Linked DNA regions of Homo sapiens. The protein of the gene in region 4 interacts with the protein of the main gene of each other region in a biochemical or structural test. Each region holds a gene or a part of one and is shown on either strand. Other genes may lie near its edges.

What was found.
Region 1: the proteins of BGN (region 4) and ELN form a complex in vitro, tested with the Homo sapiens proteins (one study listed by BioGRID).
Region 2: the proteins of BGN (region 4) and COL6A1 form a complex in vitro, tested with the Homo sapiens proteins (one study listed by BioGRID).
Region 3: the proteins of BGN (region 4) and MFAP2 form a complex in vitro, tested with the Homo sapiens proteins (one study listed by BioGRID).

Annotation. Positions count from the first base shown.
Region 1 is NC_000007.14:74,031,166-74,038,185, reverse strand, and holds part of ELN (elastin isoform a precursor), read right to left. Parts: intron 2,823-7,020; coding exon 2,772-2,822; intron 1,632-2,771; coding exon 1,602-1,631; intron 480-1,601; coding exon 447-479; intron 1-446. UniProt on the Homo sapiens protein: Major structural protein of tissues such as aorta and nuchal ligament, which must expand rapidly and recover completely.
Region 2 is NC_000021.9:45,998,770-46,005,568, forward strand, and holds the end of COL6A1 (collagen alpha-1(VI) chain precursor), read left to right. Parts: intron 1-127; coding exon 128-190; intron 191-383; coding exon 384-449; intron 450-887; coding exon 888-923; intron 924-1,561; coding exon 1,562-1,598; intron 1,599-1,989; coding exon 1,990-1,998; intron 1,999-2,483; coding exon 2,484-2,617; intron 2,618-3,191; coding exon 3,192-3,301; intron 3,302-3,448; coding exon 3,449-3,632; intron 3,633-3,757; coding exon 3,758-3,941; intron 3,942-4,350; coding exon 4,351-4,380; intron 4,381-4,621; coding exon 4,622-5,244; 3' UTR 5,245-6,279; downstream 6,280-6,799. UniProt on the Homo sapiens protein: Collagen VI acts as a cell-binding protein.
Region 3 is NC_000001.11:16,977,609-16,985,476, forward strand, and holds the start of MFAP2 (microfibrillar-associated protein 2 isoform a precursor), read right to left. Parts: upstream 3,013-7,868; 5' UTR 2,979-3,012; intron 707-2,978; 5' UTR 666-706; coding exon 629-665; intron 188-628; exon of another isoform or gene 61-187; intron 1-60. UniProt on the Homo sapiens protein: Component of the elastin-associated microfibrils.
Region 4 is NC_000023.11:153,497,978-153,504,997, reverse strand, and holds part of BGN (biglycan preproprotein), read right to left. Parts: intron 382-7,020; exon of another isoform or gene 378-381; 5' UTR 367-377; coding exon 129-366; intron 1-128. UniProt on the Homo sapiens protein: May be involved in collagen fiber assembly.

The DNA.
Region 1 (7,020 bases), on a different chromosome or scaffold from region 4:
TATTGGTCTGGGGTCAAGGGCTAGGGGACCACTCAGGGGAAGTCTGGGGCTGAGGATCTGTGTCTGAGCTCCCGAGGGTCATGTAAGGCTTGGAGGCCACTGGAACCGGAGCAATCCCTGATGTTGCCTCTAACAGCCTCTCCTTTGCAGAGAGGAGTCTCTGGACAGCTGGGTGAACACACATGCACATGTAGGGTAGATGCTAGACGCCCTCACACAGGGAGGACATGGAGCTGCTTCCAGCCTCTTGTTCCTGGAAGCCCTGGGACCTGGCCCCGGCCTACTCATCCTTGGGAGGCTAATCGGTGTCCACACCTCCCTCCTTCCTCCTGCCCGTTGGCTTCCTTGTCCTGTTCCTAGTTTCCTTGTCCCATTCCCAGCTGGGTAGGCTCCTCCCTCCCCAGCTCCCTCGCTGTCTCTCAATGCTCCGAGGCCTTGGGTCTTACCTGGCTTAAGAGGTTTGCCTCCAGGCCCCAGCGCTGCAGAGGGAAGAGAAGATAGTGAATGGGGTGGCCCAGCTTATCCATCTACTACTTATCCAACCCCCAACCCGGGCAAAGTGTGGGCAGTGTGGAATCACACACCCCAGGTCCTCCCGCTCAGACTTGGAGCCCCTGGGAACCTAGCTCTACTTCTAACTCGTGGTTTATACTCTCTGAGTCCCAGAGTCTCAGCCTCAAAAGGGGATGATGGGCTGGGGGTGGTGGCTCACGCCTGTAATCCTAGCACTTTGGGAAGCTGAGGCAGGCGGATCATCTGAGGTCAGGAGTTTGAGACCAGCCTGGCAAACATGGTGAAACCCTGTCTCTACTAAAAATACAAAAATTAGCCAGGCGTGGTGGCATGTGCCTGTAATCCCAGCTACTCAGGAGGCTGAGGCAGGAGAATCACCTGAACCTGGGAGGTGGAGGTTACAGTGAGCTGAGATCGCGCCACTGCACTCCAGCCTGGGTGACAAGAGCAAGACTTTGTCTCAAAAAAAAAAAAAAGAAGATGGTGCCTGCTCAGCCGGCTTGGCAGGGAGGTTTTTGAGGATAAAAAGAAATAGGAAGGGGCCGGGCAAGGGGCCGGGCAAGGTGGCTCACGCCTGTAATCCCAGCACTTTGAGAGGCCGAGTCAGGCAGATCACTTGAAGTTGGGAGTTCGAGACCAGCCTGGCCAACATGATGAAACCCTGTCTCTAGAAAAAATACAAAAATAAGCTGGGCGTGGTGGCACGCGCCTGTAGTCCTCGCTAATTGGGAGGCTGAGGGAGGAGCATCACTTGAACCTGGGAGGCAGATGCTGCAGTGAGCTGAGATCACGCCACTGCACTCCAGCCTGGGCGACAGAACGAGACTCTGTCCCCCCGTCCTCCCCCACCAAAAAAAAGAAGAAATAGGAAGGCAGAGGGCACCAGACATAAAGTCTAGGGGAGGGACTGGGAAGGCCAATGGGTTCTGGTTCTCAAAGAAGCCTCCTCCCACCGCCTGGATGCTGTCTGTGAAATGAGGGAGTCCTTGATGCTCGGGTCTCCCAGGGTTCTCAGGTCTGAGGATGCATGTGGCTCGGGTGAAACCCAGGCCCTTTCAGTGATGAACAAGTGTGGTTTCTGAGCTCACCTCCTCCTCCAAGGGCTCCGAGACCAGCCCCTGTGGGGGGAGAGAAAGAGAAAGAGAGATCATCGGTACTTCTGCCAGGCAAGCCCGCTGCCACCCCCAGCTATGGCTGAATCCACCTCTGCCTAACTACGTGACCTTGGGCAAGACCTGCTCTCTGCAAGCCTCGGTTTTCTCTTCTGCTTGGCCAGTAGTCCAGTGTCAGTATGTATCTGGGGGAGTGCTGGCGTCTCTCCCCACTTCCAGGTCACTTCTGTACACTCAAATGCTTTTTTTAATTTTTTAATTTTTTTTTATACGGAGTCTCCCTCTGTCGCCCAGGCTGGAGTGCAGTGGCGCGATCTCGGCTCACTGTAAGCTCCGCCTCCTGGGTTCAATCACATCATTCTCCTGCCTTAGCCTCCCGAGTAGCTGGGACTAGAGGCTCTCGCCACCACACCTGGTTAATTTTTTGTATTTTTAGTAGAGACAGGGTTTCACCGTGTTAGCCAGGATGGTCTTGATCTCCTGACCTTGTGATCCGCCTGCCTCAGCCTCCCAAAGTGCTGGGATTACAGGCTTGAGCCACCGTGCCTGGCCTCAAATACTTTTTAAGTATTGAAAGTATTACTTTTGATTTTTCTTTTCTTTTTTTCCCCTTTTCTTTTTAGAGACAGGGTTTTACTCTGTCACCCAGACTTCAGTGCAGTGGTGCTATTATAGCTCACTGCAGCCTTGAACTCCTAAGCTCAAGTGATCCTCCTGCCTCAGCCTCCCCAGTAGCTAGGACTACAGGCGTGCACCACTATGCCCAGCTAATTTTTTTTTAATTTCTATACTTCATTTTCATTTTTCTCAATGCAGAACATGGCTAATTTTAAATTTGTGTGTGTGTGTGTGTGTAGAGAGGGGGATCTCACTATGTTGTCCAGGCTGGTCTGAAACTCCTGGCCTCAAGCAATCCTTGTTTCTCTGCCTCCCAGAGTGTTGAGATTACAGGCATAAGCCACCATGTCCAGCCTGTATGCTCTTAATAGCTGTAAATCAATGTCTTGTTAATTGCATTTTTAAGTGGGTGTGACTTCTGGTAGGCGTGTCAATGTTCCTACCTTCTGTAGTGTCAAAATGTGCATCTATTATGGACATCAGCATCATCCGCATGACCTGGGTGTGTGGAAGTTTCATGTACGTTACCTGGATAAAAGACTCCTCCAGGAACTCCACCAGGAATGGCCCCAGGGACCCCTGAAAGGAAACAGGTAGAGTCAGTCCTCCAGGAGCCAGAACTATTAGGCTGGTGCAAAAGTAACTGCGATTTTTGCCATTACTTTCAATGGCAAAACCCACAATTACATGGAAACAAGAATAATGCTGATGGCAATAATGACATTGCTTGTCTCCAGAGCAGTTTCTGTTTACAAAGTGTGTTCTCATTCTTGCTCTTTGAAATCGGCCTGTGAAGTTGGAAGGGCAGGGCTTACTATCATCATTTTGTTTTGTTTGAGACTGAGACGGAGTCTTGGCCTTTCACCCAGGCTGGAGTGCAGTGGTGGGATCTCAGCTCACTGCAACCTCCGTCTGCCTGGGTCAAGCGATTCTGCTGCCTCAGCCTCCTGAGTAGCTGGGATTACAGGTGCATGCCACCAAGCACGGCTAATTTCTGTATTTTTAGTGGAGACAGGGTTTCACTATGTTGGGCAGGCTGGTCTTGAACCCCTGACCTCAAGTGATCTGCCTGCCTCGGCCTCCCAAAGTGCTGGGATTACAGGTGTGAGCCACCGCTCCCAGAGACTATCATCTTAAGACATGAAATCAGGCTCAGAGAGGTTAAGGGACATGCCTGGGGCCACACAGCTGGAAAGAGACGGGGCCTGGATTGAAGCTCAGGCCAGTGCTTTATTTTTGAGACAGAGTCTTGCTCTGTCACCCAGGCTGGAGTGCAGTAGCAAGATCTCAGCTCACTGCAACTTCTGCCTCCTAGGTTCAAGCGATTCTCCTGCCTCAGTCTCCCAAGTAGCTGGGACTACAGGCGTGCACCTCCACATCTGGCTAATTGATTTTTTTGTAAAGATGGGGTGTCAGTATGTTCCCCAGGCTGGTCTGGAACTCCTGGAAGCGATCCTCCTGCCTTGGCCTCCTAAAGTGCTAGGATGACAGGCCCCTGCGCCCTGCTGCCAGTCCTTAGAGTATGATTGTTCTTGCTGTGTTACCTGGTTCTCCCTGGAGTCAGGGAGAGGGCCTGGGGTGGAAGACACTGGGTCTGAGCACCTCTCACCAGGCAGCCCACTCCCTTCCCGAGCTGAGCTGCCGGGTAGAGGCCAGAGCTTTGGGAAGGGCAGGCTGGGCTGCTACAGCGAGCATTAAGGAGGTGCAGCTGCCAGCACAAATGCAGCCATTCCCACACTGATAGGACGGCGTGAGGTCAGCGTCCTCAGCCACTGGGCAGCCGAGCTTGGGTGGGGCTCTGGCCGTCTGACACGGGCTGTCTTAGGAGGCGCCGGGGCCGCAGGGGGACGCCATGAATGAGCACAGTGAATAGTTTCCTAAGGAAAAGCGAATTCACCGGCCAGACAGGATCACGAGTTCAGTCCCCATGGACCAGTGAAGCTCTCACTGGGGAACGCTGTGATGCTGGATCCAGACCCTGCCTGAGCCATCGCCATGGCAACAGACAGGGTCCCAAACCGGGGGCCCTGCCTCCACCTCAGAAGGCCCCCCTCTGAGCTTGACAAGCCACCTTGCCAACGCCCCAGCCCAGCCCTCCCTTACTGCTTTTGCTGAAAGGGGCCGGGAGCCCCGTGGGGCATGGGCGGGGCTGGGGGAACGGGTGTCTCTGCAATGTGTCCAGGGAGGCCTCGCGGCCAGACGTCTGGCCTCTGAGGCCTGGCGACGCTGCACAGCTGGGCTTGCTGGCCCCAGGGCCCTGTCAGCCTCAGCTGCAGCCCAGCAGGGTCAGGGCTGTGGAGCTGTCACAGCCACCGGAGCCAAGACCCCGGCGCCACCCCCTCCCAGGGCTTGTGGCTCCTCAGGCACTGCAGTCCAGGCCTGAAGTGTGCAAGTAATCTGGTCAGAACCTCAAGGCTCGGAGTGGTGGCCCCAGGGGGGCTGGGCCTGCTGAGAAGGAGCACTTGGGCCCTGTCATCCGCTGCCAAGCACACACATGGCCCGCCTCGGGCCTCTGATGCCTTCCCTGGCTCCGGCCTCCAGCTCTCAACAGTCTCTTATGCGTCTTTCTCTGCCTCGGCCTCTCTCCTTCCTCCTCTTTCTCCCCCTCTCCCTCATTCTTCACGTGCCTCTCTCCCTTCCTCTCTACTCTCTGGCTCCAGAGCAGACTGCAGGGAACAGTGTGGTGGAGGTGGGGGGAAGAGCAAAGTGCTCAGAACAGACCCCTCTGGCTTCTAATTCTGCCTTCGCTGCTTCTTACCATCTGTGCGACCTTGGGAAAGTCACTCAACCTCTCTGAACATCGGTTTCCTTTTTTGTGACATGGGGCAGATAATCACTTGGTTGTTGCAAGGTTGCAAGGTTGCTGCAAGGTTGCAAGGTTGCTGCAAGTTGTAAAAGGGTTCAAGTAATAGGCTATGTCCTCTTCTGGACCTGGCAGACAGTAATTGCTCAAAAATAAAAAGACAGTGGCACTTACGTTTCATTTTTTCCCATTTCACTGCACAGTCCGTGGCCCAGGGCCAGGTATGCAGTAGTTACTCAATACATGATGGGTGAATTAAGTAGAGGGGTGGCAGGGTGGTTGTCTGTGAATCCAGCTCTAACCTGTTTCATCCCCATCTGCCCTGGGAGTCCCCCTGCCTTGGGCTTGTTGAGCCCCTGGGCCTGGCTGAACCCTGACTTCCTTTCTCCTGGGGTTCTGCCCTCCTGCACCCCAGGCACTTTCTGGGGGGAAGACTTAGCTTCCCCTCCCCCAGATCTCCTCTGTCCCCACTCTCCACCCCCACCGTTCAGACCCTGATGATGGTGGCATTTGCCAAACTTCATGCCTGAACCTGACGGCCTGGGGAGCCCGAGGTTTTAATCCCCACTTTGCAATGAGGAAATGGAGAAGGTTTAGGGGCTACGAAGGATTCCTGCCTCTCTGCAAGTGAGAGAGGTGAGAATAAAATGACAGCAGCTGGAAATTGGAAAGGACTTTGAAAAGGTAACAGCTGCTTCCCCAGGCCCCGTGGCGATCCTCACTTCTCCCTCCACTCCTTGGCACAAGCCGTTTCTCCTGCCAGGAATGTCCTTGCCTCTGTCCAAGTCCTACCCCCGCACCAGGGCTGAGCTCAGACTCTCCCGCCTGCCTTTCCCGAGCCCACGGCTCTCCCTGACTGTGCTGCTCAGCTGGCCCTAAGCAGTTGGCCTGGAGAACACTTGTCTTGTTTTATGTGGTTTTGGCATGTTTCACCGACTAGCCCAGGGTGGAACTTGTCTCTTGCATCTTAGAATCACGATCCTAGACTCTCAGGGATCATAATAGTCTTCTGGCCTGGGCTGGACCTCCTTCCACAAACATCCTTCGTGTTCTGCTTGCATACCTCCCATGATGGGAAAATCACCACCTCCAAATGCTGTCAGCACTAACTGCAGACAGGGCTTCCTCCAATCGAGAATCTGCTCTTCTGTCTCTTCAGTTCTGCCTGCCAGGGCCTGTAGTCTGGGGACTTACCCCTCATCCACAGACAGGTCCTCCAACATTTTCCTTCCTTCCTTCCTTCCTTCCTTCCTTCCTTCCTTCCTTCCTTCCTTCCTTCTTTCCTTCCTTCCTTTCTTTCTTTCTGTCTCTCTCTCTCTCCTTTCTCTCTCTCTCTCTCTCTTTCTTTCTTTTTCTTTCTTTTTAAATATTCATTTATTTTTTAAATAGAGACGGGGGCCTTCCTATGTTGCCCAGGCTGGTCTCAAACTCCTGGGCTCAAGCAATCTGCCCATGTGGGCCTCCCAAAGTGCTAGGATTACAGGCATGAGTCACTGCACCTGGCCCCATTTACTTTTCTCTTTAGGTTTAACTCAAATGTCACTTCTGCTGGGAAGCCTTCCTGGATTTCTCAAGGCTCCTTCTGGCCACCCCCAACCGAGTCCTGTCTGCTTCTTTCATCATTGCACATCTATTTACACATTAGCTGCCCCTCCACTAGACAAAACATGGTGTAAGTAGTGAGAGGGAGTATTAAACCTTAGCAATGTGCACTAATTACAAGGATCCATGAGCCCAAATTAGCAGACTCTGAATAAGAGAATAGATTATTTTAAAAATGCCCATTCCCACGGTCCTTTTATTTGATGCTTTTTTTCCCCCCAGATATTACATTGCTAGAAGCTCTCACTGGCCCTAGGAGGTACTTCAGGCAGGGCTGTTTCTCCCCATTTTGCAGCCAGGGAAATGGAGAACCAGTGAGCTGAAGAGCCTGGTCTGGGACCCCCAGCTGACCCCAAGTCACATGTAGGGCCA
Region 2 (6,799 bases), on a different chromosome or scaffold from region 4:
AATGTGTGTGGTGGGGGAAGGGAAGAGAAGAGTGCCTCTCTTATCTTTATTTTTTTCCTTTTAAAATTTCCACTTCCTAAAAACAAAATAAAACCCTTGTTAACCAAGTGCTCTCCCGTCACTGCAGGGCACGAAGGGCTACCCCGGCCTCAAGGGGGACGAGGGAGAAGCCGGGGACCCCGGAGACGATGTAAGTGTGGATGGGAGGCAGGGCCAGCCCCAAGTCCACCTGAGCCAGAGGGCTGGGCCCTTGAAGGGCAGTGGACCAGGACCCGCTTGGGGAGGCCTCATGGGCCCCGGCTGCTGGATGCTCTGTGGACGGGGCCAGCGCGCAGATGCCCGGGTGGTGCACGGTCTGTTGACACAACGCTGTTCCCTTCTAGAACAACGACATTGCACCCCGAGGAGTCAAAGGAGCAAAGGGGTACCGGGGTCCCGAGGGCCCCCAGGTGGGTGGATGTGGCTGGGTGAGGCCACGGTGGGCTGTGCCTGGGACGCCGGATGCTGGGGCTGGGGAATGCTGGAAGAGGCTGGGAGAGTGGGAGGCGGCGGGAGGGAATTTTGGGGAGCACGTCATCTGGGAGGCCCTGGGGGTGGGAGGTGCCGGTCACCAGGGCCAGGTGGTGGCCAGGGCAGCAGAGCCGAGCCCAGGGACACAGCGGGTCCTCAGGGTGGGGCCCACCTGGGATGGCCGCCTGGACCACCAGTGTGCGAAGCCCCAGCTGCCCTCACAGCACCGTCACTGGAGGACGAGGGGCTGGGTAGGGAGGGACCGGGCAGGGGTGGGCTTGATGAGGGGCAGGGCCCTGGGGGTGGGGGCTGTCTCAGCTCAGGAAGCACAGTGGGCTCCTCACCCTCAGAGCTCCTCTACTCCGTTTCTCGGACAGGGACCCCCAGGACACCAAGGACCGCCTGGGCCGGACGTAAGTGGGGCTCTGTGAACATTGCTGGGGGCGACCACTGTAGCTTCCATCCCTTGGGGTGTGGGTCCTGTCCATGGGTGCTCCTGTAGACGCTGCTCACGGGGGGGTGGGTTGTGGACAAAGAGCTGGTGCCAGGCCCTAGGGACCCGTGACGGCCATGGGAGGACCCGTGAGGATCATAGGGGGATGTGTGAGGACCATAGAGGGGACATGTGAGGATCATGGGGGACATGTGAGGATCATGGGGGGGACGTGTGAGGATCATGGGAGGACGTGAGGATCATGGAGGGGGACATGTGAGGATCATGGGGGACCCGTGAGGATCATGGGGGACCCGTGTGAGGATCATGGGGGGGGACGTGTGAGGATCATGGGGGGACCTGTACCCATGAGGACCATGAGGGGACCCGTGACGGCCACGGGGAGACCCATGACTGCGCTGTTTCTATGACCACGTCAGGGGTCCAGCCCAGTAGCAGGGGTGTAGTGGGCAGAGCCGGGCACACCTGCAAAGAACCTCCTGCCCAAACCCCGCCCTGTGGGGGCCCCAGGGAGGGTGACCTGGAGATCCAGCAGCCCACAGTCCCCGCTGGGAGGGGCTGTCTATGGCCCCAGTACCCTCGTCTCTCCCTCCCCAGGAATGCGAGATTTTGGACATCATCATGAAAATGTGCTGTGAGTATCTCTGAGAAGCCGTCCTCGTTAGGGAGAGCAGGGCCGCCAGCCTGGCCTGTTCCACTCCTAGAAGGGTGTCTCCACTGTTGGGGGCCTGGGTCTCTGGGTACATCCTTGAGGAGGCTCCTCAGCCAGCCCCTACCGGCCTCCAAAGCCCTCCCAGGCCCCCGGGTCCCCGCACAGGCTGAGAGTCCCCGGTGCGGTGCAGAGCTGCCACGTGGGGAGGGCGGCCGGGGAGGCGGGGAGGCGGGGCAGGAGGCCGGGGAAGGGGGGAGGCCGGGGAAGGAGGGCGGCCGGGGAGGCGGGGAGGCTGCCCCAAGAGTAAAAGCCTTTCTGACGTGCGCAGGACGCGGCCCTGACTGGTCTAACTGACTCTTTCTCTTCTCCTCAGCTTGCTGTGGTGAGACCCAGGCTCTAGCTCCTGAGAGAATGGATCCCGGGGGTCGGGGAGCGAGGCCTGGGTCCCACACATGTCACAGGACAGCACATGGCACTCTGGTCCCCGCCCGCAGCTCCCTGCACCTGCCCGCCCCCTCTGGGGCCTGCTCCAAGCCAGCAGGGTTCCCGGGTGTTGGGCTGGGCCCCGCCCTCTTTCACCCATAACTGAAATAACCAGGAGCAGGCTTGGGGGGGTCCCTGCTCCATCATTCTGGCCCACAGGCCCCACCCTAGCCTGGCTGAGCAACGCCAGCCCTGACCAGCCGCCGGACAGAGCAGCCTTTACGGGGCCATGGGAGGGGGTGGGCTTTTCTGGGGCTGAGACGGGGGGACCCCAACGTGTCAGGTGAGGATGTGGCAGCCAAGGAGGGGCCAGGGCGGTGGAGGGGAGGGGCCAGGGCACTGGAGGGGAGGGGCGTGCTCTGCTGACACCGCCCCCGCCTGCAGAATGCAAGTGCGGCCCCATCGACCTCCTGTTCGTGCTGGACAGCTCAGAGAGCATTGGCCTGCAGAACTTCGAGATTGCCAAGGACTTCGTCGTCAAGGTCATCGACCGGCTGAGCCGGGACGAGCTGGTCAAGGTGAGGCCTCGCCCCGCCCGGCTTTCTCAAGCCCAGGTGCACCCCGACCCTGCCGGCCGCCCCTGCCCGCGCCAGACCTCAGCCTCCCGAGGCCACCGCTGCATCCCTGTGACTTCCCTACTCATGACAAGGATGCCAGGCACGCGCCAGCCCGTCCAGGCCTCCAGCTCCACCTGGCGAGGCTGGCCCATTGTACACAGGCGCCCCAGATGAGGGAGGGTCTCCCCCTCTCCTTGAAGGGCGGTAGTCTGGGGTCCTGAGTGCTGGGTGTGGGCTTGTCCCTCGTGGACAGAACCCAGGAGGGCTTCATCCACCAAGGAAGATTGCTTTGCAGGGTACCCAGGTCCCGGGGGCTGTGCCACCCTCTGGGCACCCGGAGCCAATCGCAGGGTACCCAGGTCCCGGGGGCTGTGCCACCCTCTGTGCACCCAGAGCCAATCGCAGGGGACCCAGGTCCTGAGGTCCTGGGGGCCATGCCACCCTCTGGGCACCCGCAGCCAATAGAGTCACCCTTGGGAAGCTTATGCGGACCTGGGGCAGCACTCGCGTCCTGACCCCGGTGCCGGTCCCACAGTTCGAGCCAGGGCAGTCGTACGCGGGTGTGGTGCAGTACAGCCACAGCCAGATGCAGGAGCACGTGAGCCTGCGCAGCCCCAGCATCCGGAACGTGCAGGAGCTCAAGGAGTGAGTGCCCCACGCGGCCAGGACCCTCCCACCCCTCGCCCCGACCGCTGTTCCCACGGCAGGTCGGCCCTGACCCCTGATCCCAGGTGGGCTCGGCCCCGCGGCAGGCCTGGCCCCAACCGGCCCTTCCTGCCCTTTGCTATGCAGAGCCATCAAGAGCCTGCAGTGGATGGCGGGCGGCACCTTCACGGGGGAGGCCCTGCAGTACACGCGGGACCAGCTGCTGCCGCCCAGCCCGAACAACCGCATCGCCCTGGTCATCACTGACGGGCGCTCAGACACTCAGAGGGACACCACACCGCTCAACGTGCTCTGCAGCCCCGGCATCCAGGTGGGGTGGCCACCCCCAGGCTGCACCTGCCCCGCCTAGGGCGCCCCGCCAGCCAGGGTGGCCTTGTCCCCAGAAAGACGAGGGCAGAGCAGGCTGCGCCACACCGATACTGTCTGTCCCCACAGGTGGTCTCCGTGGGCATCAAAGACGTGTTTGACTTCATCCCAGGCTCAGACCAGCTCAATGTCATTTCTTGCCAAGGCCTGGCACCATCCCAGGGCCGGCCCGGCCTCTCGCTGGTCAAGGAGAACTATGCAGAGCTGCTGGAGGATGCCTTCCTGAAGAATGTCACCGCCCAGATCTGCATAGGTGCGCATGGGGCCACCCGGGCAGTCCCAGATCTGCGTAGGTGCGCGCGGGGCCGCCCGGGCAGTCCCAGATCTGCGTAGGTGCACGCGGGGCCGCCCGGGCAGTCCCAGATCTGCGTAGGTGCACGCGGGGCCGCCCAGGGCCGTCCCAGATCTGTGTAGGTGCGCGCAGGCGCCCAGGGCTGTCCCAGAGGCCTCCTCCCAGCTCACTGTTACCTCCAGGGGCACGGCCACCCTGTAGGTGCGCACGGGGCCGCCTGGGGCTGTCCCACAGGCATCCTCCTCCCGGCTCGCTGTGACTTCCGGGGGCACGGCCACCCCTGTGCTCGGCCGGGAGGTCCTGTGACATCTCCTTGCGGGGTTATAGGTGGAGCAGTGGGCTCACACTGCACGGCTTTTCTCTTTTACAGACAAGAAGTGTCCAGATTACACCTGCCCCAGTGAGTACCTCGGCGGCCGGGACACGTGGGGAGGAGGGCACCGTGGTTGGGGCGAGGGCTCTGAGAGGACGGGGCTCTGGGAGGAGGGCCTGGCGGTCACGAGAGTAGGTGCATGGCTCACTCCGGTGGCTGAGCACCACCGTGCCGTGCCCTCTCTGGGGAGCTTAGACGCTCTCTGGCCGGCCCACTGCGGCTGCATCACCAGGGCCTCATGCTAACGGCTGCCCACCCCGCCCCGCAGTCACGTTCTCCTCCCCGGCTGACATCACCATCCTGCTGGACGGCTCCGCCAGCGTGGGCAGCCACAACTTTGACACCACCAAGCGCTTCGCCAAGCGCCTGGCCGAGCGCTTCCTCACAGCGGGCAGGACGGACCCCGCCCACGACGTGCGGGTGGCGGTGGTGCAGTACAGCGGCACGGGCCAGCAGCGCCCAGAGCGGGCGTCGCTGCAGTTCCTGCAGAACTACACGGCCCTGGCCAGTGCCGTCGATGCCATGGACTTTATCAACGACGCCACCGACGTCAACGATGCCCTGGGCTATGTGACCCGCTTCTACCGCGAGGCCTCGTCCGGCGCTGCCAAGAAGAGGCTGCTGCTCTTCTCAGATGGCAACTCGCAGGGCGCCACGCCCGCTGCCATCGAGAAGGCCGTGCAGGAAGCCCAGCGGGCAGGCATCGAGATCTTCGTGGTGGTCGTGGGCCGCCAGGTGAATGAGCCCCACATCCGCGTCCTGGTCACCGGCAAGACGGCCGAGTACGACGTGGCCTACGGCGAGAGCCACCTGTTCCGTGTCCCCAGCTACCAGGCCCTGCTCCGCGGTGTCTTCCACCAGACAGTCTCCAGGAAGGTGGCGCTGGGCTAGCCCACCCTGCACGCCGGCACCAAACCCTGTCCTCCCACCCCTCCCCACTCATCACTAAACAGAGTAAAATGTGATGCGAATTTTCCCGACCAACCTGATTCGCTAGATTTTTTTTAAGGAAAAGCTTGGAAAGCCAGGACACAACGCTGCTGCCTGCTTTGTGCAGGGTCCTCCGGGGCTCAGCCCTGAGTTGGCATCACCTGCGCAGGGCCCTCTGGGGCTCAGCCCTGAGCTAGTGTCACCTGCACAGGGCCCTCTGAGGCTCAGCCCTGAGCTGGCGTCACCTGTGCAGGGCCCTCTGGGGCTCAGCCCTGAGCTGGCCTCACCTGGGTTCCCCACCCCGGGCTCTCCTGCCCTGCCCTCCTGCCCGCCCTCCCTCCTGCCTGCGCAGCTCCTTCCCTAGGCACCTCTGTGCTGCATCCCACCAGCCTGAGCAAGACGCCCTCTCGGGGCCTGTGCCGCACTAGCCTCCCTCTCCTCTGTCCCCATAGCTGGTTTTTCCCACCAATCCTCACCTAACAGTTACTTTACAATTAAACTCAAAGCAAGCTCTTCTCCTCAGCTTGGGGCAGCCATTGGCCTCTGTCTCGTTTTGGGAAACCAAGGTCAGGAGGCCGTTGCAGACATAAATCTCGGCGACTCGGCCCCGTCTCCTGAGGGTCCTGCTGGTGACCGGCCTGGACCTTGGCCCTACAGCCCTGGAGGCCGCTGCTGACCAGCACTGACCCCGACCTCAGAGAGTACTCGCAGGGGCGCTGGCTGCACTCAAGACCCTCGAGATTAACGGTGCTAACCCCGTCTGCTCCTCCCTCCCGCAGAGACTGGGGCCTGGACTGGACATGAGAGCCCCTTGGTGCCACAGAGGGCTGTGTCTTACTAGAAACAACGCAAACCTCTCCTTCCTCAGAATAGTGATGTGTTCGACGTTTTATCAAAGGCCCCCTTTCTATGTTCATGTTAGTTTTGCTCCTTCTGTGTTTTTTTCTGAACCATATCCATGTTGCTGACTTTTCCAAATAAAGGTTTTCACTCCTCTCCCTGTGGTTATCTTCCCCACAAAGTAAAATCCTGCCGTGTGCCCCAAAGGAGCAGTCACAGGAGGTTGGGGGGCGTGTGCGTGCGTGCTCACTCCCAACCCCCATCACCACCAGTCCCAGGCCAGAACCAGGGCTGCCCTTGGCTACAGCTGTCCATCCATGCCCCTTATCTGCGTCTGCGTCGGTGACATGGAGACCATGCTGCACCTGTGGACAGAGAGGAGCTGAGAAGGCAACACCCTGGGCTTTGGGGTCGGGAGCAGATCAGGCCTCAGTGGGCTGGGGCCGGCCACATCCACCGAGGTCAACCACAGAGGCCGGCCACAGGTTCTAGGCTTGGTACTGAAATACCCCTGGGAGCTCGGAAGGGGAGTTGAGATACTGCAGGGCCCATAGGAAGAAGTCTTGGGAGGCTCCACCTTTGGGGCAGAGGAAGAAGTCTTGGGAGGCTCCACCTTTGGGGCAGAGCAAGAAGAGGGCGGAGGGCAGAGGCAGCGAGGGCTCATCCTCAAAAGAAA
Region 3 (7,868 bases), on a different chromosome or scaffold from region 4:
CATGCTGGAGTTTCTCATGTCTGCTTGTTTCCTATTTGTCTCCCTTCCCTGGACTGGCAGCATGATGAGGAGCAACGATGTGTCTGCCTGGTTCATCGCTGAATCCCCAGGGCCTAGCCCAGCACTTGGCACGTGGTAGGGACTCAACACATCGCTGCTGAATGAATGAATGTTGGCCCTGCTAGGACTTTTGTGGTCCTCATTGATTCTCTTCATTTGGCCAGTAGGGACCCCCACAAGGTCAGGACTGTATAGAGCAGAAGGGCCCTGAATGGATCTAGAACTCAAGCATCCGGACTCCCTGCCTTGGGTGCCCCTGCACCTGCACATCGGCTCCCAGAGAGGCCTTGTGCCTTGTGCCCACGGAGTCCTTGTGCCTGGGACGTGCCCTCCAGAACCCTGCCTGCCTGCTGCTGTGGAAGGCTGGGGGAAGGGCCAGGAGCTGCCTCCAGATGCTGCCAGGGTTGGCTGGTCCAGTCTGTGGTCCAAGCAGGCAGAAGGCCCTGGGAGCTGGGGAGCTGAGTTCTGGTCATAAGTCGTGACAAAGGCTCACTATGAATTCCCCCTACTAACCCTACTCCTCAGCCCCACATAAGAGGAGCTACCCCCTGCCCCAGGAGCCACTTACCAGGCAGGAATAGCAGGAAGAGGTAGGCAGCTCTCATGGCAACAAAGAGGCAGGCCGGGGTGGTGTCAGAGAGGACAGCTGGGGAAAGACCGGTGGGAGAGCTCTACCCAGGGCCACACCCAGGACAGCAGAGCTCACCTTTGATCCCCTGATTTCGCCCTGGAGAAGGTGGCACCCAGAATAGAAGCCAGGCATGGGAGGGCTGGAGTGGAGGGACATCCCAGTCCCTGCTGGCCCACCCAGGTGTTCAGGTCACAAGGGACAAGGCCTCCAACCCAGCTCCAGGGCTGATCCTGACAAGCAAACCCCGTGTAGTGGGTGTACTTGATGTGGTCAGGGAAGGGCGGACCCTGCCCTGCTCACTAAGGGGACATTCCTAATGTGCTCCCAGCCCAGGCCATTCTGTCCTCACCCACACCCGTGCTCAGCCCTCTGGCCCAGTGGCTCCCTGGGTGTCCAAGGCACTGACTGCGTGAATCACTGAACCCAGGCCCATCCTTGGGACCCCAGCCCTGGCCAGCCGGCATCACCGCCTGGACTCAGCAGCTTCTGCCAAGCCACCACCTGCTCCCAATTAGCCCCTGGGCCCTAAGCATCCTGCTCAGCAGGAAACCACATACACATGGGCCTGCCCGGCCCCCAGAGCGGCCAGGCCGGGCAGGGCTCCCAGCTCCCAGAAGACTCCTCTCCTGCCAGGCCTCCAGGCCTCGCAAGACCTGGCTGTGTGCATCACAGGCTCACGAGACCCGGGCTATTTGCAGCAGCAGGAAGCACGAGAGTGAAGCCTGAGGGGGCTCCTCTGGATCCCAGAAAGGCAGCACTGAAGGGGCCGTGACATCACCCAGGCTGGGGGTTCTGCACCCCCTGACACTGTAGGCAAGTGTGTGTGTCATTTGGAGGGAGAGGGCATGGGGTCCGTGGCTTTCATCAGGCTCCTGACATTCAAGAGCCCAGCCTCCAGTCCTGGCTACACGGTGGGACTTGGGGGAGCCTCCGGTTCCCCACATCCAGCCCCAGCTCAGTGGAGGGCCACCTCAGGTCCGTCAGCCTTCTGTAGGGAGGGCTGCGAGGGCGGGGTCCATCCAGGAGGGCCCCTCCCGGCTGCAACCCAGGAAGTCCTTTCAGAGAGCTAGCTGGAAACCCCAACTTTGGTCTATTTTCCCCACTGGGAGTCCAGGGAGAGGGGAGGGAAAGGGGAGAAAGCAGGAGGTCTTTCCCTCCTTCCTCTCAATCCTGAGGCCTCCTGACCCCCTGGCTCCTCTCATGCATTAGGCACCTCACTAAGGTGGAGTGGGAGCCGGGAGACGAAGCTCAGGACCAAGCTGCCCCAGAGGCGAGGGATAGCTGGCTCCCCACACCCCATTCTGAAAACCCTTGACCTCCTCATGGGAGGGGGATGAAAAGACCCAGAGAGCCTTCCTTGCCCTTCTCCCCATCCGTCAGGTCGGTCGGAGCCCCCGCTGCTCAGCAGAAGGCGCTGAATTGGGGCAAGAGGGGTTGCAAGGTGTTGGGGGATGCCTGTCGGTACCCTGCGGGGAGTCTTCCTCCCCTAGGACTGGCCCCCGAACCCAGGCTTATTGGGGGAAGGAGGCCCACGGGCTAGCGGGGAGGCAGGAAAGAGAGAAGTCAGTGTGGAGTTCATGAACTCCTCCCACGGGACCACATCTCCGAGCTCTTCTAGACGAAGGGGTTTTGGGGCGTGCGGGAGGCCAGGACCTGCCTGGGAGGCTGCCCCACCCCCACCTCTGGCCTCTTCCACAGCTGCGGCCTCCCCCACCCCCGACTCCCCTGCGTCCTGGGAGGTGGGGGACAGGGGGCCCCGACGCTCGCTCAGACATCAGACGGAGGGAGGGCTCTGCCGGCTCCAGAGCCGGGCTCAGGGGGAGGGGTCCCGGCGGGAGAAACCCAGATGTTGCAGCGCCGCACAGCTGGGAACAATCAGCCGCGGAAACTTGCTCCGCGCGCCCTCGCGCTCCCGTCTCTGATCTCTCTTTGTCTCTCTGCGTCTCTGTCTCGGCCATTCCCACCGGACCCCCCCCCCCCACCCCACCCGCCACATTCCAACCTCCCCGGGAGAACAAAAGATGTCCCATCCCCCGACGACCTCACCTCTGGCTCCCCCCAAACTCGGGCTCCCCGCCCTTCCCAATTCGCGTTCTCTCTGCAGAGCAACCCCAAACTTTCCAGGTGCCCCCTTGGCCTCCGCTCTGAAGGCGCGGGGTTCAGGAACCTCCGCGGCTGCCCCAGGATCGAGGACCCAGAGAGCCTGGCACCCTCGCCCCCGCGCCGGGGGACCCGCCGACGCCCCTGACCGCCCCCCGGGGCCCCCAAGCGCCAGGCCCGCGCCTACCTGTCCGGGTCACTCCGCCGCCCGCTCCGAGTCCGCCCGCCGGAGCCGCCCCTTGGCCCGCTCCGAGTCCCCCTCCGGGCCCCCGACGGGGCTGGCGCCCGCCCTCCAGCCCCGGAGCCGCTGGGTCCTAACGCGAGCTGCCCGCATGGGCCGCCACGCCGTGCCCTCGGGGTTCCATCTCCTGGGGGGGGGGGTGTCCCCGGGGTAGAGGCGCCCGGGGCCGTCCTCACGTCTGTGCAAAGCTTCCTCCTCCTCACAGCTGCTCCTCACTCGACGTCGACGGGGTGAGGGGGGTGAGGTGGGCAAGGGTAGGTGTGTTGCCCATTTCACAGAGGAGGAAATCAAGCCTCCCAAAGTGACTCACCCTAGGCCCCTCAGCCAGAAAGTAAGCCTCGATCTCCCTCTGCCTTCTCCCAGCTTCCAGGACACTCTCCTGCCTTGGTTTTCCTTCTGCCTCTCCAGCCAAGCCTGCTGCCTCTCTCAGGCCCGCACCCTCCTCTCCTACACTGCTGAGCTCTGGGCCATGGCTGGCTTCCACAACCAGCGGTTCTTTCTTTCCTTTTCTAGAGACAGGGTCTTGCTGTGTTGCCCAGGCTCGTCTGGAACTTCCGGCCTCGAAATTTTGGCCTCAAGCATTCCTCCTGTCTCATCCTCCTGGGCTGTTGGGATTACAGGCATGAGTCCCTGCCCCCGGCCATAACCAGCACCTCTTTCAGCCCTGACCCAGCCTATGTGTCCCACAAATGTCCTCAAGATGCATCAGCTTCAACAAGCATCCAAGTCCAAATTCACGACCTCCTAACTCTCCCCCAGACCTGGCCCTCCAGGATTCCCAGTCCCCCCTTGGCCCCGCAGCCTTCCATTACCCAGGCTTCCTCCCCTGCCCTTAGCCCTGCATCTAATCCAGCACCCACCCGTGAATGCTACCTGAAAAATTTCTTTTGTGACTCCGTTCACTGCTCCCACCCTGGCCTAAGCCACTGTGAGACCAAGTTGCAATCCCAAGAAACCGCATTTGCTCTTTCTGCTTGTCAGAAGCTGACAAAGCCCTGACTCAGTGACTGGGGGCAGCCCAACGGAAGGATGCCTTGAAGATGGCAGGCAGGGCAGAACACAGGCTCCCACGCCTCTTGCCTGAATCACTGCATTGTTAGAAAATATAAGTTAAATGATCCTGGCTGTGCCTTTTCCTGTACATAAGATAGCACCTGACAGGATTGACGATTATGCCTCTATAATCTATATAACTAGGTGCATCCTCGAACCCAAACCTTGGCGAGATTTGCACTAGTGTAGCTTCTGAAGACATTTGATGTAAATTTTTCTTCTTCTTTTTTTAATGAGACCGGGTCTCGCTCTGTCATCCAGGCTGGAGTGCAGTGGCACCATCACAGCTCACCTCTTGGGCTCAAGTGATCCTTCCACCTCAGCCTCCCAAGTAGCTGGGACTACAGGCAAGAGCCGCCATGCCTGGCTAATTTTTTTTTTTTTTTTTTTTTTTTGTATTTTTTGTAGAGAAGGGGTTTTGCCGTGTTTGCCCAGTCTGGTCTCAAACTCCTGAGCTCAAGCAATCCACCCGCCTCAGCCTCCAAAAGTGCTGGGATTACGGACGTGAGCCACCGTGCCTGACCATAGCTTCTGAGCACACACAGAACCGCCTGCCTCTGTATCTAAACTGTGGGCTGAAATGCTGCTTTGGCGCAGTCTAACAGAAACTCTCTGAAACCCTCTCCCAGGGTGCAGTCCTCAGTAAGACTCAATAAAACTAACTTTAATTTTTTCAATGGCTGATTTTTTTTTTTTTTTTGAAATGGAGTTTAACTCTGTTGCCCAGGCTGGAGTGCAGTGGTGTGACCTCGGCTCCCTGTAACCTCCACCTCCCGGGTTCAAGAGGTTCTCCCAACCCAGCCTCTCGGGTAGCTGGGATTACAGGCACATGCCAGCATGCCAGGCTAATTTTTGCTTTTTTTTTTTGAGTAGAGACAGGGTTTCACCATGTTGGCCAGGCTCCTGACCTTAGCTGATCCGCCTGCCTTGGGTTCCCAAAGTGCTGGGATTATAGGCATGAGCCACTGTGCCTGGCCAAAAGGTGGATTTTTTCTTTTTCTTTTTTTTTGAGACAGGGTCTTGCTATCTCCCAGGCTGGAGTGCAGTGGTGCATCCTCAACTCACTGCAACCTCTGCCTCCTGGGTTCAAGCGATTCTCATGCCTCAGCCTCCAGAGTAGTGGGGACTACAGGCACCCACCACCATGCCTGGCTATTTTTTTTTTTTTTTTTATTTCTCGTAGAGACGAGGCTTCTCCATGTTGTCCAGGCTCGTCTCGTACTCCTGACCTCAGCTGATCCACCCACCTTGGCCTCCCAAAGTGCTGGAATTACAGGCGTGAGCCACTGCACCTGGTCAAAAGGCTGATTTCTTATTTAGTTGACACCACCATCATTTGCCTGGGCTCTGCGATAGCCTCCACTCTGGGCTCTCCCACGTGGGTCCTGCCTCCCTCACCCCCGCAGATCGTGCCCCTTCTACTGATCGCCTTTCACTCAGGTTAGAGGCTCAACTTCCCTGTGGCTTCCAGGGCCCCGGCCCTTTATGGCAGCCTGGCTCTGCCTCCTCTTCCTCCTCCAGCCACTGGCCTTTGGGGGTTTTCTCCCAAACCCCTCTCCCTCCCACACTGAGGCGTTTCTTCCTCCCGAGCACTGGCTGAGGTCTCCTCCATGGGGTCACAGATCAAACCCTCCCTTCCTCAGAGGGGCCTTCCCTTTTTCCTTTTTTTGTGCTTTCTAGCTTTACTGCTTGCAGTTGTCTTGTTGGCCTATGTCTGTGACCATCTGAGCCCTGTCCCTCTTCCCGATGAGACTGTCATCTTGCCCCGTGAAGGCCAGGACCAAGGCTGTTTTTGCTCATCTTCAGTTTTGCTCATTAAGTTCAGAGCCCGGCTCAGAGCAGCAGTTCAGCAAACATTGGTGGAATGAATGAGTGAACTGTACACTAAACTCTTCCCGGAGAAGCTGGCTGGGGGTGCAGATCCTCTGCGTGAGGGGCAGCCTTCAGCCCTGCCCAGGAGCCTAGGCCTGAGGCGGGAGTGAGAGTTGTAGGGGCTGCGGGCTGGGAGGAGATGAGGATGGCCCCTGATTTAGACCCTTGCCATCTGATCTCTTCATCGCCAGTCATTCCCCCACCTCCCTTAGACTCTGAGTCTTAGGGAGGGAGTAAATATGCCCTGTGCCTCCTTCATTCCCATGCCCCGCCCCCCAGTGTCTATTGCAGGGCAGCAGAGACTTTTGTCACCTGGAGAGAGGTGGGCCCTCAGGCCAGGCCAGCCCAGCCCTCTCTGCCTGCCCTTAGACCCCACTGCTGCCAGGAGCAATCCCACTGGCAAAAGAGAGGAACTCACCCAGCAGAAATGCTGTCCCCTACCCTTGAAAAAAGGAGGGAGGTTGGGTGCAGTGGCTCACACCTGTAATCTCAGCAGTTTAGGAGACCAAGGCGGGTGGACCGCTTGAGCCCAGGGGTTTGAGACCAGCCTGGACAGCATGGCAAAACCCCATCTCTACAAAAAATACAAAAATTAGCTGGGTGTGGTGGTGCTGGCCTATAGTCCCAGCTACTCAGGAGGTTGAGGTAGGAGGATCACCTGAGCCTGGGGAGGTAGAGGCTGCAGTGAGCCACGATTGCACCACTGCACTCCAGCCTGGGCAACAGAGCAAGACCCTGTCTGAAAAAAAAAAAAGAAAAGAAAAGAAAAACTGGGAAACTGAGGGGCTAAAGCTGACAATTCGTGTCCTGGCTCCCATGTCCTCTCTGCTGCTTCTACCCATTCCCCTGGCTGTTTCTTTGGGCAGGGGAGGGGATGGGGCTGTGGTTGCTGTGCTCCCACTACGTCTTTGGAGATGTGCTCCTTCCCTGCCAGGCTTTCACGCTGGATGGTGAACTGCTCGCAGGGTTAGACCATGTTTTTGTCCCGTTTTATTCAGTTTGTTGAGTTAGTCCTGGTGCCTGGCACACACCTGTCCAACAGATTCATGAATAATCAGCTAAGGGTAGAGGAGGGATTTGAACCCAGGCCTCTCTGTGGCTTCCTCTTAAACAGCATCTACCACCCTGAACCGTCGCTGGCTGGCAACACAGTGCCAGGAGCAGAGGTCCACTGTGATGTGCCTCCTGGCAGGACTTTCATCTTCACACCCACATCCCTTCTCCCCAGCATGATTCAACGTTTTCTCAGCCCCTACTCTGGCAGGCCTGGGGATAGCACCAGGGGTTCCAGGAATGAGGTTGGCCAGGGCTTTTGGAAGGCAGGAAACAGCCGGTCTTTCCTGTTCTCCCCTGCCCAGATGAGCCAGACGGCCAAGCTGCCTCTCTAGAGCAGAGGGGCTTGGCCAGGGGCCCGCTGGTGAGATGAGCTCAGAGGCACCCACCCTTCCCTGAGGGATGATGCGCGTGGTTCTGGCTGGGAGATGTGGGCTCCGAGCCTGGATTTCATCTGAGGAAGGAACTGCCCACAAACATGTCCCAGGATGCTGGGGTGGGACGGGGAGGGGGTAAGGTGGGAGAGAGGGAGCTGCCCCCTAGCAAATGCCTCCCAGGCAAGCCTACATCTCCTTGTCCTCCAAAGGAGGGTAGGAGGGTTAGGAACATCGAAGCTGGAGTCAAAGCTATCCGGCCCCACTCTGACTACTTGTGTAACCTCTAAGCCTTGGTTTCTTCATCTGTAAAATGGGAATAGTACCACAGTTGTTGGAAGGATGACATGACAATGTGTGTAAAATGCTAAATGGGGCCAAGCGCAGTGGCTCACGCCTGTAATCCCAGCACTTTGGGAGGCCAAGGTGGGCGGATCACCTGAGGTCAGGAGTTCGAGACCAGCCTGGCCAACATGACGAAACC
Region 4 (7,020 bases):
ACCCCTCCTACACTTACATCATGCTCGCCACCGTCCCACAGGACCAGCATGTGTCCCCTTCAGAAGGGGCTCTCAGGCTGCACCTGAGCCTCCCTGCATGCCCCGCTCCCCATCACTCAGGGACAAACCCAGGTCGGAGCACTGAACCACCCGCAGGTGGCAGTGGCAGCCGAAAGGACACATGGCGCTGTAGGTGGGTGTGACAGAGTCCGGGTCCAGGACGCCCGAGGTGTCAGCGCCCGAAGCTTCCTCATCGTTCATCATGAATGGCCCATCGTCCAGGGTGAAGTCCCAGAAGCCTCTCTGCTCAAAGGGCAGGGCCTGGCTCAGGGCCAGCAGAGACACGAGGCGCCACAGGGGCCACATGGCGGATGGACCTGGGGGAAGAGGCGAGGGGATCATCAGCACCAGCACCCACCTGTCTTCTCCATGCCAGGGGCTGGTGTTCCGCGTGTGTGGTGGCACTGCGTTCCCATCCCTCACCAGGGACGGCCAGACCCTGGAGCGGGAGGCGGAGAGGGCGGAGTGTGGGCAGAGGGCTCCAGGCAGGAAGGGAGTGGATGCTGCTGGCAAGGAGGGTGCCCCCTCCACTCCACTCCCTTCACTGCTTCCACTACCCCCCTCCCCATCCCGGACAGGACTTGGCTTAATCAGGCGATGAAATGTCTCCTCATCAGCAAGTCTGCAGGCCCCCACGCCTCTGAGTCTGCCAGAAGCCTGCTTTAGGGCGGGGGCGTCCATGAGGCTGCGTGGAGGAGGTGGAGGAGGAATCCTAGCCATTGGCCCTCAAGGGCTTTGAAGAATTCACTTTTGGGGACATCACTGTGGCCTCCTACCCGGGCCGATCCTTCCTTTGAGTTCTGGGCTCAGGGCAGCGTGGATGAAGTTAGTTGAGTGCGGCGACTCTGAGTTGCTTCCTCCCTCCACCCTGCCCACGTTTCTCAGAGACCCTCTAAGGCCAAGGTAGGGAGGCAGGGCGGAGAAAGAGGGGGTATCCTTGGAGGCCGTGGGTAAAGTTGGCTGAGGCAGCACTGAGTGGAGGCCCCCGAGGTGGAGGCCGTGGCGCCCCCAACACTGCCCCTGGGCCTTGGCTTCCTCCTCTGGACCACCCGCCCCAGCCCCCCGCCCACACCGCCTTGGCCCAAACAGCCCTGGAGCTCCCAGATCTGCTCGCACCCTTCCTCCCTGCCCACAGCCTCGGCAGCCCAGAGAGGCCCCCCAGGGGAGCAGGCTGCCGCCAGGGTGGCAGGGCAGGGTCAGGCTTGCCTGAGGCCCCCCAGGCCGAGGCGGCGAGTGGGAGTGGAGGCGAAGCAGCCCTGCCCGAGCCTGCCCCCAGCACCCACCTCTGCTTGCCTCCTCCCTCCTCATCAGACACGGTCTCCCGTCCAGAGGCAGCCGGGAATGTGCCCTACAGGAAGAGGCTGGAGCCCTGCCTCTCTCACCACTTCATCCACCCTGACTCTCCAGCAAAGGCCCAGGTCTCATCCCAGCCTCACCTTCCCCATCTGTTAAGTGGGAATAAACATGCCTGCCCTGCTTGCCACCCAGCCTGGGGTGGCCCTCGGTGCATCTGGAGATGGGGAGCCCAGCTGGGCAGCAGGGGCCTCTGGCAGACCTGAAGCAGTCGCACGCCCAGGAGACCCTCACTTAGGGCCAGTACTAGCTGGGGAGGGGCTGTCTGGGGCTCCAGCAGAGCGAGGTGAGCCCCCTAAGCCCAGCTGCTGGTTGCAGGGGTCTAAGGAGGCCGTGGGGAGGTGGGGGCTCTGCCCCCAGGCCAGCACCCTATGAGCAGCCCCGCCCTGCCCGATGCTTCCCCAGTTGCCCTGGGGGCTGGGCTGGCTGCCCGGGGCTGCCGCTTTGGAGTCCTTGCTACCAGCGGGCCGGGGGCCTGAGGCCACTTCAGGGCCAGGTTGGGTCTGAGCACAAGCCCAGGAGAGGGTTGGGATGGAGGCCTGTCCTGTCGCCCCCATGCAGCTCCTCGGGTGCTCCAGGGAGCATCTGCTGGCACGCGTCCCCCCTGCATTGGCATCCCCCCTAGAAGCCACCCATGCGCCCTCCCACACCTGTGGACAGAGGGGCCTGTGGTGAGGCTGTGGCTATAGCGGCTGCCAGGCCTGTGGAGTGGCCTTTCCGCAGCCAGCCCCGGAGCCCTCCTGAGCCCACAGGCCCTGGGCCACACTGCAAAGTGGGAGTCGGAGCCCAAGGCTTAGCTCAGCTTCCCCCTCATGTGGAGCTGGACTTCATGCTGACCCCTGGGGTCACCAGGAGGCCCCTGCTGGGGCAGCACCGAGCCTCCCTCATTCTTTTGAGCCTTGAGATCCCACAGTTGCAGCCCAGGGCCTGCCAGCCTCAGGCCGGCCCAGCAGAACCTAGGGGAACCGCCCGGAGGGTCTTGGCCCCCAAGTAGGGAGAAGGCTCAACACTCACCTACCTGGATGGTGTTTCCCTTCCTCCAGGGCAGGGCAGGGCCTCCGATGCCTGCTGCCGCTGTAGGACCCTCTCCCAGTGCCAGTGGACACCCGGGGGCAGAAGGAGGAGGAGGAGGAGGAGCAGTGGGAGAGAACAGGAAGGGCAGGGTGGAAGCAGGAGAGCAAGATGGAGTGGGGGAGGGAGGAGACTGCCCTGCCCCTCCTTGCCGATGCCCCTGCCAAAGCCGCTACCTCCCAGGGAGAGTGAGTCAGGGCTGGGACACCCCGCCAGAGCCCTGGCAAGCTCCAGGGTGGGCAGTCCACCTGGACAGGTAGGGTTGGGGTGGTCCGGCTGGGCCTACGGGAGGCTGTGGGGAGGGGCTGGGGAAGGCCGAGGGGACAGAGGACCATCTGACCATGGCCAGCTTGGAGCCCCCCAGGACCCACGCATTGGCCTGGAGGAGGACTCTACAGGGACTCCTGCCCCGGGGCAAGGGGTCTCCCCAGGAGCTGGGACTTCCCTGCAGGCCCTCCTGTTAGGGAATCGGGCCCTCCACCAGGGCAGGGGGCACAGGCACAGGGCAGGCCAGTCACGGCAAGACTGGCCATCGGGGTCTCAGGCGGGTTCCCGGGACCAGCTGTGGGGCAACGAGGGCTCTGGAGGCAGGCTGCCTGATACAGTAGGATGTCTGGGGGGTCTCCAAGAGACTGAGAAAGGGGCAAGGGGAAGAGGTTCCCTCAGAGCGGGGAGGGAGGCTGAGGGCTGGAAGGCCCATACACCCGGGCCCCGTGACAGAGGCAGAAGGACAAGGTTTGGCTGGTTTTCCATGGCTCATGGCTGTGCCCAAGCAGTGGGCAGGCTGGAGGGGCGGGGGCCGGGCAGGCTTCCCGGCACATCCCTCATTTCCCCTCAAAGAACTGGCACAAAACTGAGACCTCTCCCGAGGAAGGGGCAGGCTCCGTGTCTGAGCCCACAGGAGGCAGCAAGGGGCCCATGAAGTCAGAGGGAGCCAGGGGAGCCTGGGGGGAAGGATAGGATCCCCTGGAGCTGGCCTGATGAGTATCCCCATTTTATGGACACAAAAGCTAAGGCCGAGAGAGAGGCTCTGATTTCTCCCAAGTCACTCAGCCTGACTTGGAACTCAGCTTTGGCGCCTCCAGGCCCCGCCTGAGCTCTCAGCTGTGCTCCTCAGCCACAGGGCTCCAGCCATGTCTCTGGGCCTGTGAGAGCCTGAATGCCCAAGACTGGGGGTGGCAGTTTGGGAGGTCCTGGCAGTATAGGCTCAGCTGTCCTCCCAAAGCCTGGCCCCTGCCTTCTCCCCACCACCTCACACCAAGCCCCTCCCTCCTGCCAGAACATGCACACACACACACGTACACACATACACACACAAACACACACACAGATGCACACATACACGCTCACATACACACACGTGCACACGCACACACCTATACAAAACACATATGTACACACGTGCACACACACATGCACACACCTATACAAAACACATATGTACACACATCCACATGCATCCACATACATGCACACATCCACACATATACGTGCACACACCTATACACACATGTACACACATATACATGCACACACCTAGACACTCACACATGCATACCCATGTATACACATTCACATACACATATGATACACATATACACACATATATACACAGATGCACACACACTCATGCACACATCTATACACATACATGCACATGTACATCCACATGCGCACATGCATGCATGTATACACACATGCACACATGCACACATACACACATGCACACACATGCACACACACGCACACATACACATTTATACACACGTACACACACACACACATGCATACATGCACACATACATACATACATACCTGCACATATACACCTGTATACACGCATACACATATGTACACACATACATGCACACATCTATACACACATGCATACACACATTCACATATACATATGTATACATATACACATACATACACATATATCCACACATAGATAAGGCAGGCGGGGACCCCAGCCCAGGAAGCAGGAATACCCCATAGTCAGATCCTGTGAGACCCACAGCAAGTCCCTCCAGTCCTCAACTCTCCACCACCACAACTGAGGCCTCTGGGCCTCAGTTTCCCTTCATTGGCCTCTCTGGGTGTGTCTTCAGGGACTTCAGGGAGGGTTTCAAGCCCCACCAAAGTGTGCCCTGAGCTCCCTGGATACCATCTCTTTAGAGCAAAGGACAGGGGCGGCAATGGCATAAGCCCCAGGTTTGGCGACCGCAGGTGTGAGTGAGGGAGGAGGCTGGGCTTCCTGGAGCCTCCGCCACCACCCCAATAGGGCCCTCCTTGTCTGCCCCTCTGAAAGCTAGCGCAGTCCTCTGCACTGGATTGCTCGAGGTCACAGCCAAACAAGATGCGTTGGCAGCCTCTGAGAACATGGAGGGTCCGTGCCAGGCATTCAGGCCAGGCCAAGGGCGGCGGGAGCAGGGCTTGAGGTCTGGCGGGCCCTGGGAGCTCGCCTGCAGATGGTGTGGCTCACAGCTGCCAAGTGGCAGACGCCGGATGCTGTCTCCGCAGCCTCAGCCCTGGGCGTCTGCCCCCCTGAGCAACCCGACCTGAACTCTGACACATGTGCCACCTTCCACGCAGCCCTGCGGGGTCCCCGGGACTGTGTCCTTCCTCCCCTCCCCTCTGGCCTCCAAAGCCTTTTGGGCCCAGTTTCAACCAGCAGCCTGGTGCTTGTGCCCCCGCTGACACCCGGCCTGCCCCCTGCCACTCTCCCAGGCCCCAGTCCACCAGTCCCTCCCCGCCGATGGCTCCAGCCTGTACTTGGGCATCAACCAGAGAGGGGATGTGTACCCTCCCTGGCCTTGCCAAAGCCCGGCGTGTGCGTTCATCTGTGGGAGTGGCTGCCTGAGGGGCTGGGGGCTGGAGTGGGGAGGGGTGGACCTTGTGCCACATTCCAAGCCCCTGCCGTTGCCGGAGCATGCCCTTCAGGCAGCCACGCTTGGGCGTCTGCTCCCCTTGCAGCCACGTGTGGAGGGGCTGGGAAACCCCGGCTCATCTGCTGCTCAAATCCTTTCCAGAGGTTTTCTGGCAGGGTGGCGACAAGGGTGGAGTTCTCCCTTGATGCGCCCAGCCACCTCCCACCTCTCTGTGCCAGCCCTTTGCAGCCTGTGGCGCCCATGTCAAGGTCCAGCCTGTCCCCACAGTCGGCGGAGTGCGGGACTCAGCCCTTCCCACTGTGCGCTCCTGGTCCTCTGCACACGGACTACTGCTGCCCCCTCCCACTCTCCGAAGAGATCCGGGGCCTCCTGCTAGAGTCTCCAAGGAAAAGGGAGGATGCTGTCACCTCTCAGAGGCAGAGCAGGGGACTCATGTGATTTCTTTACTTAGCATCCTGCCGTCCCCCGTTGACTATAAGAAGGAAGCAATGCTCTTAGAACTTGATGAAGGGGTAAACTGAGGCTCAGGAAGTTGGCCCCAAACTCTTGCCCAAGGCCACACGGTGAGGAAACAGCAGAGCTGGGGCTGCACACACTGTCTGTCTGTCCGTCTGTGTCCTTGCCCCCATGTCTGGACCCACCCTCTCCCAATGCACACAGTGCCACAGGCCCCAAAGCTGACACGCTTCACACTCTCGGGGCTGTGCAGGGGGCTCCCCTGGAAGCATGGCCCTTCTGAGGACCATCAGTAGCTCCCTATGGCCCACAGATCCAGAAGCCCCTCCTCAGCCCCAACACAGCCAGCAGGGCAGCCCCCGCCCAGCCTCTCACCTCTGCCTCTGTCTGCAGGGAGTCTCCTGGAAAAGCCATCGTCTCCCCAGGCGAGCACTTCAGGGCCCCAGGGAAGGTGTTCCCGGCCTGCCCCCCAGAGCCTGGGGCCCTGCCTCCCTCCCTCCCTGGTACAGGCCCACCAAGGCCAGGAGGGGAGGGGAAGGTTTCCTGCAGCCCCTCCCTGCCGCAACCCGCTCTCTGCCGGGGGCTCAGGCTGGGCTGGGATTAGCCTCCTTCAGCCAGCCAGGGTGGCCCACAGCCTGCTTAGCTTCAGGCTCCTGGGACTGCTGGGCTCCCATGGGTGTGTGTCTCTTTGCATGAGGGCAGCCTCCAAGAACCATGGGATGGCAGTCAAGGCCAAGCAGGGACTCAGACTTCCAGAGGATAGAAGTCACACTGGCTTCCCAGACTTCCCCTGCCTCCAGGGACAGGGCTGCCTTCTAATCTTCTGGCCACCCAGGAGTCTGCCCGCCATGCTCCCCTTGGCCCATCTGAACACCTCAGGGACCAAACAGGACTGGGATGGCCAGCAGAGGCAAGTTCAAGAGGCCCACAGAGTCCGTTGGGCCCCTGGTCCTCCAGCTTATCTCAGGCCAGTGTTTAAGTGGAGCTCAGGCTTAAGATGCAGTGGACCAGGAGAGTTCCATGCAAGAAGGCTGGCTAGAGCCCCAGGCCCCTAAGCCTCAGAGATGAGCCTCATGGGAATGGGCAGCACCTTCACCAGGCCTGCCAGGGAGCCGGGACCTGACCCTGCCCCTTGGGCTGGCTGGGATCAGAGCTGCGCAGGTGGGAAGCTGGGAGTGGGAGGGTTCTG